Linked DNA regions of Homo sapiens. The protein of the gene in region 1 interacts with the protein of each later gene in a pairwise test. Each region holds a gene or a part of one and is shown in the gene's direction. Other genes may lie near its edges.

Evidence for each region.
Region 2: the proteins of STOX1 (region 1) and ROR2 interact in binary tests that used the Homo sapiens proteins (3 or more experiments, as listed by UniProt).
Region 3: the proteins of STOX1 (region 1) and POU2F1 interact in binary tests that used the Homo sapiens proteins (3 or more experiments, as listed by UniProt).

What each region holds. Positions count from the first base shown.
Region 1 is NC_000010.11:68,830,531-68,834,130, forward strand, and holds part of STOX1 (storkhead-box protein 1), read left to right. Parts: intron 1-3,600.
Region 2 is NC_000009.12:91,943,574-91,947,399, reverse strand, and holds part of ROR2 (tyrosine-protein kinase transmembrane receptor ROR2 isoform 1 precursor), read left to right. Parts: intron 1-3,826. UniProt on the Homo sapiens protein: Tyrosine-protein kinase receptor which may be involved in the early formation of the chondrocytes. It seems to be required for cartilage and growth plate development. Phosphorylates YWHAB, leading to induction of osteogenesis and bone formation.
Region 3 is NC_000001.11:167,223,741-167,227,566, forward strand, and holds part of POU2F1 (POU domain, class 2, transcription factor 1), read left to right. Parts: intron 1-3,826. UniProt on the Homo sapiens protein: Transcription factor that binds to the octamer motif (5'-ATTTGCAT-3') and activates the promoters of the genes for some small nuclear RNAs (snRNA) and of genes such as those for histone H2B and immunoglobulins.

The sequences.
Region 1 (3,600 bases):
CAGGGTTTCACCATGTTGGCCAGACTGGTCTCGAACTTCTGACCTCAAGTGAACTGCCTGCCTCAGCCTCCCAAAGTGCTGGGATTACAGACATGAGCTACCGCGCCTGACGATTTTTGTTCTTTATAATATTTTTATTCCTTTTTTTAAGCCTTGACCATGGCAAGGACAGATTTTGAAGCTTTTAACGAGTCCTGATACAAATTTGAACATTTAGCTGGGATTTGGACAAAGCCACCCATTAGGACATTTTGAGGAGCAAAATGGAGAAAGATCTTATTTGATGCTGAGTGATGGATACACATGGGGGACAAAGGGATGCTTTTGCTTTGAATAGCGTTGCTAATTGCTGATTTCTGGTCTAACTTGGGGTCCCTAGGTTCATATCAAAAGAGAAGAGGCAGCTCTTGGGCTACCTTAGAGTCCTGGAGGGTGGCGAAGGCAGGAGAAGCTGCTTTCCCCAAAAGGAATTGAAAGTTTGTGTCGGCTTGCTCTCTTGCCTCTTGCAGCACTGACTTCCAGGAGGGCGGGGAAAGAGCTGCTGTGGACTATTGCAGGTTGTTGCTCCATTCTCACTGTTATTTTGTAGGAAAGAGCAAAATGCTAGAAAAGGACAAAAAGAGTCAATCTGATCTCTTTGCCATAGATATTTATTTATCTATTTATTTATTTTTGAGACGATGTTTCACCCTTGTTGCCCAGGCTGGAGTGCAATGGCGCAATCTCAGCTCACCGCAACCTTCACCTTCTGGGTTCATGCAATTCTCCTGCCTCAGCATCCCGGTAGCTGGGATGACAGGTGCCCGCCACCATGCCCAGCTAATTTTTGTATTTTTAGTAGAGATGGGGTTTCACCATGTTGGGCATGCTAGTTTCGAACTCCTGACTCAGGTGATCCGCCCGCCTCGGCCTCCCATTTGCTGGGATTACAGGCATGAGCCACTGCGCCTGGCTAGATGTTTTTTTAAAGGCTAATTTACTGCTGCATAAAAGCATTAGGGTATAGGAAGTATTGCTGGCCAGCTCAGGCAGAAAATGCAGGGAGAGAGGGATGGCGGTCAGCTTTATAAGTCCAACTGTGCTGCCTTGGGTCTTATAAGACCTGGGACTTACAAGGTAAGAGGAGGGAGCACCCTAGCCAAGCCGACTGGAGTGACTGGAGCCCCAGTTGTAGACCTGAACTTAAGTCATGCAGAGGTTTATGTTTTCTCCAAGTTTTCTGCCTTAGTTCTCTCTGATTTCATTCTCTCTACCTTACCTTTCCTCTGGTAAGGAAAGTAGTTCCCAGGCAGAGAGTATTTCTCTAAAAAGAGAGACATTGGATCTTTAGCTTGATTAACAAGGGGCTAACTCTGTTTTTGTGCTCCAGTCCTCAAATGTTGTATTTTCTTTTCTTTTCTTTTTTTTTTTTTTAAGTGGAGACAGGGCCTTGCTCTGATTCCCAGGCTGGTCTCTAACTGCTGGGTCCAAGGGATCCTCCCCCCTCGGCCTCCCAAAGTGCTGTGATTACCAGTGTGAGCCACCGCACCTGGCTCAAATGTTTTGTTTTCTGTTTTTCATTAGCCAGTGGCTTTCACAAATGAAAGAGTGAGTTCTGGAAGCTGGAGGGAGACTGCTGCCTAACCAGCTGAGCCACTGGGGAAGGAGGTACTGCAGGGAGGTGGGGCACCTGTATTTGTTTGGAAGAATCTGTTGCTACTCTGAGAATACACCTAACGGGACAGGAAAGATTAACGGTGGGGGTGGGCGGCCACTTGGCCAAACAAGTTTGTTCCCTTCTGAAATTTATAGCTGGGGTGTCTCCACCCTGTCACCCCCAGCAGGGCCTTTCATCTTTTCTCACTGAATAAAAATGCCCCAGGCCATGCCTGGTGGCTCTTGCCTGTAATCCCAGCACTTTGGGTGGCTGAGGCAGGTGGATCACATGAGGTCAGGAGTTTGAGACCAGCCTGGCCAATGTGGTGAAACCCCATCTCTATTAAAAATAGAAAAATTAGCCCGGCATGGTGGCACGTGCCTGTAATCCCAGCTACTTGGGAGGCTAAGGCAGGAGAACCCGGGAGGCAGAGGTTGCAGTGAGTGGAGATTGTGCCACTGCATTCCAGCCTGGGCAACAGAGGGAAAATGTCTTAAAAAAAAAAAAAAAAGAAAGCACCAAGTGCTGGTGGCTCTTTTTAAATACTTGCTTCATGAATTCATTCATGAGCCAGGTACTGTTCTAGGTGTTTCTCTGTGTTTTGTTTTTTGTTTTGAGACAGAGTCTTGCTCTCTTACTCAGGCTGGAATGTAGTGGTACAATCATGGGTCACTGCAGCTTCGACCTCCTGGGTGCAAATGATCGTCCTACCTCAGCCTCTTGTGTAGCTGGGAACACAGTTGCGTGCCACTGTGCCTAGCTAATTAAAAAAAAATTTTCAGTAGAGGCAGGTCTTGCTCGCTATGTTATCCATTTTGGTCTCAGACTCCTGGGCTCAAACAATCCTCCTGCCTCTGCCTCTCAAAGTGCTGGGATTACAGGCATGAGCCACCTTGCCTAGCCACTTCTGTGGGTTTTTTTTTTTTTTTTTTTTTTTGAGACAGAGTCTCACTCTGTCGCCCAGGCTGGAGTGCAGTGGTGTGATCTCAGCTCACTGCAACCTCTGCTTCCCAGGTTCAAGGGATTCTCCTGCCTCAGCCTCCCGAGTAGCTGGGACTATAGGCGCGTGCCAGCACGCCCGGCTAAGTTTTTTTGTAATTTTAGTAGAGACAGGGTTTCTCCATGTCAGTCAGGCTGGTCTGGAACTCCCGACCTCAGTTGATTCATCCGCCTCAGCCTCCCAAAGTACTGGTGTAGCAGGACAAGCCGTAGACAAAACTCCTCAGACACCGAGTTAAAGAAGGAAGAGGTTTATTTGGCCGGGAGCATCAGCAGGACTCCTGTCTCAAGAGCTGAGCTCCCCGAGTGAGCAATTCCTGTCCCTTTTAAGGGCTCACAACTCTAAGAGGGTCCATGTGAGAGGGTCATGATCAATTGAACAAGCAGGGGGTACGTGACAGGGGCTGCATGCACTGGTGGTCAGAGTGAAACAGAACAGACCAGGAAGTTTTATAATGCCTTTCCATACAATGTCGGGAATCTGTAGATAACATAACCAGTTAGGTCGGGGTGGTCTTTAACTACCAGGCTTAGGTCAGGCAGGCCCAGGACTGGTTTCGGGTCTGATTCCTAGGCGCCGGGCTACCTGCCTTTAGTTTTGCTTTTCTTTCTTTTTCTGAGTATAAAACATTATAAAACAATATGAGAGGGTCTGTCTCTCTTCTCTTACTGGCGTGAGCCATTGCACCCGGCCCGCTTCTGTGTTTTAATGCATCTTTCATTCAGATTTGCCTCTGCTCAAGGGAAATAGAGTCAGGCTTATTTTCCACATCTAGTTCAAGAGGGGATAGCTGAGTGGGAGGCCATGTTCTGGAAACTGGCTGGTTCACACAATCTTCTCCATCCCACAGTGACTCTGGGTACTGCAGTTTCTGCCTTTAATTAGGCAGGAGTTCTTTGTGCTTTGGGAGGTACTGAAGATCAGGCACATCAGGTTGGCGAAAGGGAAGTGATGGGAGGATCTT
Region 2 (3,826 bases), on another chromosome or scaffold:
TTTGAAATTTTTCAGTATAATTGTGAGATCCTGCTTAACTCTCATGTCCACTTCATAAAGCATGTCACCCTGAAAATCTGATCGCCGTGGACCCTATGTGACACTCAGTGTAACTGAGAGGGCTCTGGAAAGCCAAGCTGAACTTTTAATTAGTAAAGCAAATCATGGAAAACTGACAAGTCTGCTTTATATTTTATATGTAAAAAAGCAACATGGGTTTTTTAAAATGTGCGTTTTCCAGGGGTAGTTTTTGGTGACTGCTCTGCAGATTTTTAAGGCAATGTTAAACAACATTTTTATTTTTATTGTGAAACCTTTTTTTTATTGTTTATTCAAAGTGCTGCTGTAATTGGTGTTTGTATGTCTCTCTCTTAAGTGTGGTTTGCAGTGAATCACTTGTTGCCCCTTAAACAGTTAGCCTGGATTTAACCTCCAAGAGATTAAGTCTGGCAGAGTCTGAATTTTACACTGCTCTTTTCTTTGGAAGCTCTTCTGAAATCAGTGGAATAGAAATACAGGGGTACGAACAGCTCATCTGACAGGTAGGGAAGATTAATCCCCTTTAGAAAGGTTTCAGCTGGTGGACTGGCACTCCTTTAAAATGCATTCCCTGAGAGGCCAGGATGGGAAAAGTTATTAGTGAAATGGGAACTGGATGTGAAGGACTTGAGCTCCCTAATCTGCAGGACCTGGCTAGTCTGTTGTAGTGCTGGAAATTTGTGTACTCTTTGTAATCCTTTCCCTTGGAGAGTTCTAATTATATAATTCCACATTGTAGTCAGGGAAAAGAAAGTTAACGCTACAAACTGTTACTCCTTCCCAGGGTTTATAACCATCTTCTAAAATGGTTCCTTGATGACAGGCCTTTCCTTTTGGTGTTTATCTGGTTCATTCCCTGGGAACCTGGAGGGGACACTGTGAAGGACTCCCTCCTCCTCCTCTTCCACACCCCATCAGCGTCTTGTGGTTTCCACGTGGTGAAGGGCTGGGCAGCCCAATTTTGGGTTTACCTTGAGGTGCCTCCTTGGGGGCTCCTCGGGGCGGGCTCTTCCTTGCTCTTGCCCATTGGTTGTGACTCCATACATTGTCATTAGGATATTTCCTTTTTGGGAGCCCCGTGGTGACCACCAAGTGGAGAATACCAAGCATGTAAGGTTTCAAAGTAAAGAAACCAGGGGGCTTTGTTTTGCAGTGGAAGCATTGCTAGCTAGGTCTGGATTTTTATTGGTTGCACCCCAGCTGCATGGCCAATAGCAATTTCATGAAGGGACTGTTGGGTTGAAGGGACTGGCTTTGAAAACATTACTTCTCAGTGACCCTTTGGGCTCTTAGGTTCTGCTTTGCCCCACAACACCACCATAACACTGTTGAGGCTTTCAGTGGGTAGTGTGGGCTTCTTGAGTTTTGAAAGTAAAAATCCAAGCAACAAGAGGCGCTCCAGCCCATTAATTATAGCTGCAACTGGCCGGGGTTTTGTAGCAGCCGCCTTTTTCTAGCATGTATTTATTTGGTTTTGTTGAAGAGCTTGCCAAGTTGGAAACGAGGGCGGGACAGCTTTGCTTGCGTGTGCAGTTGTCATAAAATATGTCTGGGGTGTAATCTGTTTAAAATCATATTCGTAGAGTGGCCAAAGAATTGTTGAACAGTGTTGGGAATTTTCATAAAGCTTTTACAAAATAGGGAATTTTATTGGTGTGGTTGGCACTGTTTTTGGGATTTCTGTGGGTGTTTTCTTTTTAAGTCCTATCTCTGAAAAAAGCAAAAAACTCAAAAGCTAAAGGGAAGGAAATAATTACAGAAAAATGTAGCTTAATTCGACTAAGTAGCTTGGTCCTCTAGAAATCCTTAAGTTCTAGTGGGAAGTGGTGTGTATGTCTTTAATTGTCGCTGGAATGAGCTTCAGTAAGCACTCTGTCACTTTCTAGATGTTATCAGAGGAGAATGTGGCGGCTGCTTCAAGTCCTCCTGGAGTGGGGGAGGGTTCCCCTAAATCCCAAATACTCCTAGCCTAATGGTTTCCACACCCTCCTGGAGGGATAGTTAACACAATGGGCAGTTAAAATAAGGAAATGTTTAGGCCTGAACTCCTCATTGTAGGCTTGTGCTGTGGAATATAGTAGCCACCAGGCACACACAGCTATATAAGTTAAAATTAATTAAAATTAAAAGAAATTAAAGATTCACTTCCTCCCCTTCACTGGCTTCATTTCAGGTGTCAGTAGCCACAAATTGCTATGCAAAAATGTCACTGGGATTTTAGTAGAGGTTGCATTGAATTGGTAGATGGATCTGAGTAGTATTAACTTTTTTTTTTTTTTTTGAGTTAAGGTCTTGCTCTGTCACCCAGGCTGGAGTGCAGTGGTGCAAACACGGCTCACTACCTCTGGCCTTAACCTCCTGGGCTAAGCCTCTACCTCCTGGGCTCAAGTTATCCTCCCATCTTAGCCTCTGAAGTAGCTGGAACCACAGGCACGCGCTACCGTGCCTGGCTAATTCTTTGATTTTTTTTCGTAGAGATGGAGGTCCACTTGTGTTGCCCAGGCTGGTCTTGAACTCCTGGGCTGAAGGGATTCCCCACCCCCACCCCAGTCCTGGGATCGTAGGCATGAGCCACCTCACTGGCCATCATCTTAACAGTATTGTCTTCCTGTCCATAAACACAGGATGTCTTAACATTTATTTAGACCTTTCATTTCTTTCAGCAATGTTTTTTAGTTTTTAGTGTATGAGTCTTTTGCCTCTTAAGTTAAATCTATTCCTGAGTATTTTATTCTTTTCGAGCTGTTGTAATTGGAATTGTGTTTTTTAAATTTCCTTTTCACATTGCCCACTGTTAGTGCACAGAAATGTAACATTTTTGTGTGTTGATTTTCTAACCTGCAAGCTTGTGGAATTTGCTTATTAGCTCAAATAGCATTTTTGTAGCTCTTATTCTGTATGTAAAGTCGTATCATCTACAAATAGGCATAATTTTACTTCTTCCTTTACAATTTGGATGCCTTTTATTATTTTTGGTCTTGCCTAATTGCTCAGCCTGGAACTTCCAATACAGTCATGGGCCAAATAATGATGTTTTCAGACGATGGACCACCTATATGACAGTGGTCCCATAAGATAACACTACTGTATATGACTGTGCCTTTTATATGGTTAGATACACAAATGCTTCCCATCCTGTTACAGTTGCCTACAGTATTCAGTACAGCCACATGCTGTATAGGTTTGTTGTAGCCTAGGAGAAGTAGGCTACACCACATAGCCTAGGTGTGCAGTTTGTGTGAGGGACACTCTATGATGTTCATATGATGATGAAATTGCCCAGGGACACATTTCCCAGAATGTATCGTCATCGTTGAGCAACGCATGACTGTACTGTGTTGAATAGAAGAGGTGAAAATGGGCATTCTTGTCTTGTTCCTGATCTTGGAGGAAAAGCTTTCAGTCTTTTAACATTGAGTGTGATGTTTGCTGGGCTTGTCGTATATGGCTTTTACTATGTTGAGGTGGTTTCCTTTCTATTAGTTTATTCTCATTTTTTGGTATATTTTTGACTTTTAGAACATGCTAACATTCTACAAGTTCAAAAAATAAATCACTAAGAATAGCAGGAAACTAGAATTGAATACAAAGAAGCACATAAATGCAAATGTGTTGCAAATGAGTAACATGACTACACAGATGGGGGAAAAGAAACCGTAATGTTGGACTCAGTGCTTTGACGGTGTATCCTCAGCCTACAGGAGAAACAACAACCTGAAAGCAAAACTGGCACCCTTCTTAGTAGGTTTGATTTTCATAGTGGTGTGGGTATATCCATTCTGAAATG
Region 3 (3,826 bases), on another chromosome or scaffold:
TCTGTAGCTTTTAAGAGAACCTTCAGGTGAATGACTGCTTCAGAGACCTGAAGTATGAGGTCAGATGGACAAAAAGCAGCAATATAATTTCATGCCTTAAATAGCATATGTTTTTGCACCCGATTCCCAAGATGTGGTCAAACTGATGATGTCATTGGACAGAGGACAAGGTGCAGTTAATTTGATTTATTGTCCTGAGGTGAAGTGTAGCAGTGAAGCCTTCTCATAGGGAAACCATTTATTTCGGGTCAATTTCCTTTATAGCTGCAATTTAATCACTACTGAGGCCGTAGATATTTTATACAAAATGATAAAATGTACATTGGATTTTACAAGCAAAATTTCGCTGTTACAGTTTTTGTAATACAGAAAAGGATGGATGTTGTTAACTGGCCTTATATTTTGGTTCACTTTTAATGCTATTGTAAAAATTCATTTCCTCAAAATTCTCAAATGGAGTATTTGGGTTTTAGATAGATAGTCATAGAAGTGACCCATATAAATGTTTGTTGTGATCCCCCAGACTTTTATAAGAAACTGTGTTTCTTAATCAGAGCATGGCTTAGGCTAATGGAGAGACCATTTGCCTTAGAATCCATTTCAGTGAATAAAGCAGAGTTGAGAATGAGGGCTGTGTATTCTTTAAGGTGGAAATGATAATGTTGAAAATAAGGTAGAATACTCACAGGAAAGCATGTGCTTTTAAAACAGATTTTTTAAAAAAAATTCAGAATTCTTTTTGGATTTATCTTAGTCTGGACAAGTTTGTTCATTTTGTTTTGATTAGTGATTTTAAAATTGTTCCATTGCAACAGTGATTGCACTTAGAATTTTTGACATATTAATAGATTTTCTTGTAAGACATTTCTCATATTTTTAATTATTAGTTTATTTTAAGGTGATGATTAAAATTCCCTGAGAATGTGATAAAATTGCTTTATTTCTAACCTGAATTTGTGATCCAATTTTGATAGAGTATTTTAGGTTACTTTTGAACCCACATGAGTTTATAACCTGCCTGTCTCCTTTTGCATCTGTCAAGTAGTTTCCTGCGTATTTCTAGGAAATCCATTGTCACTGTCTTCTTTTTTTTTTTTTTTTTTTTCCAGACAGAGTCTTGCTCTGTCTCCCAGGCTGGAGTGCGTTGGTGCGATCTCGGCTCACTGCAACCTCTGCCTCGTGGGTTCCAGTGATTCTCCTGCCTCAGCCTCCTTAGTAGCTGGGACTACAGGCATGCGCCATGACGCCCGGCTAATTTTTGTATTTTTTGTAGAGGCGGGGTTTCACCGTGTTGGCCAGGCTGGTCTCGAACTCCTGACCTCAAGGGATCCACCCGCCTCGGCTTTCCAAAGTGCTGGATTACAGGCGTGAGCCACCATGCCCAGCCCGTTGTCACTTTCTTAACTCTCCCACCTATTAATTACAATGATACTTTTGAATCAAGGTCTTGAAAATTCATGTGACAGCTGACCAACTGTTTTTGATTTCTAAAGGACTGTTCTGCTTCCAAACCATTACCGTAAAAGCAATTTTTAACCTCTTCCCTCAAATTAGTTTGTAATTCCTTTCATTTTGTCATTGTCAAAAATCCCAGTAGACAAGGAAAAAACAAACCGTAGCTATTATTCAGGTTCAAATGAATTCAGGTGTAGTGTTCTGCCATATTTTAAATTTACTATTCTCTACATCAATAGGTAGTATAAAGCAGTGTAAATAAAATATGTTTCATTGCTGCCTAGTTTGAAGTAATTGTCAATCTGCCATTCATCTGGTTAGTGGATTTTGCAATAAGTTCAGGGCTCAAAATGTTACGTTGCTCTTCTCAAGCCACCAAAGATGTTTAATAGACCCTTGAATATCTTAGGCAGGTGGTTCTGAAATAACAGAAGTGGAAATTTGAATGTTATCTTTAAGTATTTTCTATTAAAAATTGAAATATTTGACCTGCTTCTTGAATCTGTATTGCTTCATCTTGAATTTATTTGTGTTTTTTAAGTTGGTCACTCATTTTCATGAATGTTTCCTTTGTACTTGGAAGACTGTAATATTATGTAGTAGTGATTGCCTTGTTGTTATCGGTTATTTTTGTTTTGTTTTTTAATTTTGAAACCCCATAGTTGTAATCTTTGCATATTAGTCTTTCAAGCACCATTAAAAATAATGTTGTGTGACTCATTAATTTGCCTTTATATAATTGTGTTAATTACACAGTTTTTGTGATTAGTAAAGACTTGCTATGAAGCCTGATTTTAAGCAGGAATGTGTTTTTCCTAATGAAAGTGATTGCATTTGAATTTAGAACTATTCAGGTAATTTGCGTTTAGGGAACAGACCAAGTCACAAACAAAACATGCCCCCTTTTGGTTATCCATGTTCTTGTTTCTGATCCCTCCTTAAATGCTAAATGCCTGAGCAAATGTACTTACTATTTCTTGGGCGTTAGAGTTGAAAGTTGTTGATTTGATTCAGTGACATATCTGCTTTGAATTTCTGTACCCTTTCTGCATGAATTTTTTCCTTTTCCTTTTTTTGGGGTAACTTTGAGTCACCATTTTGCTTACTTCTTACTGTGTTGCTTAAAGGATGTAAATATCCTTTTGAGTGGTTGAAAGGGATAATAATTAAGGTTCACAGAGAATAGCAGTTTCCTTATGCATCTTTCGCTGGACATTTTTGTGCATTATTGACATTTCATAAGTAAAGAGAATTGAATAACTGTAGATTTTAATTCTTCTTAGGAATAAATTGGTTTGTTTTGTACCGAAGTATTTCTGTGTTCTAAACAGGTGATGAGCTCTTATAAACTGTTTCAGCAGTAATAACAATGGAAACAAAAATAGCCTGAGTAGAGCTATTGCCTGACTTACTTGATCCGTTTACAGTATGTTTAGAATTTGGAATATGAGAATTGTCTTGAGTTTCAGAAGTTCTGATTTGAAGATGCTCCTTGCATACAGTGCATGTGGTTATGGGGTTCTGTGTGTTTTTACTATGGGGTGTGAATTTTTTGAGCATTGGTATCTTTGTATACTCAGTGACTAATAGAGCTCTTTTGTTTTTGGGTTTTATTTATTTATTTATTTATTTCCAATTAAGCAAGCACTCAAGATTTCAGTGTTGCCTACATTTGCTGACAGGACTAGTAATTGAGCAAAAGAAGAATCAGCAAACCTCTAGATTTATCAGATTATCTTTTATTCATTTATTTTCTCTTATTTTTAATTTTTTTTAAGAGATGGGGTCTTGCTATGTTGCCTAGGCTAGTCTAAAACTCCTGGGCTTAAGCAGTCCTACTGTGGCCTCCCCAAGTGCTGGGACTACAGGCATGAGCTACCACACCTGGCCCAGATTTCTTTTAAACTGCTGGAACTCCTGGACATTTATCCGGAGAGGATACATTATACTAACTTTTTTTTAACAGCCAATGTTCACATTCCACAAAGCTAAGTGTTTGTAGTAGCTTTACTAAGTCTTCAATATTGAAAGTCATAGCAAGTGCAGTTTATCACATTATTTATTTCATAATTCTTTGTAACTTTATGCTTTTTATGTTGGAATATAGAAATGGTATATGAAATTAAATCAATAATAATAATTATTATGGCAGGTTTCCCCCCCTCTGTTGAACTTTCTCTTTGCAATAGAAGATATAAACAGGAATGGCTGGAAAATGAACAATATGCTGTGTGTTAAACGACTCATTTGTGCTTAAACATATGATTACCTTAATGGAGTTGCACTGATACCTTAAAGGGAATATATTTTTATATGGAAAAGTGACTTAGGTGTTTTCTTGTTTTAGTACACTTATTTTAGTGGTCTGCTT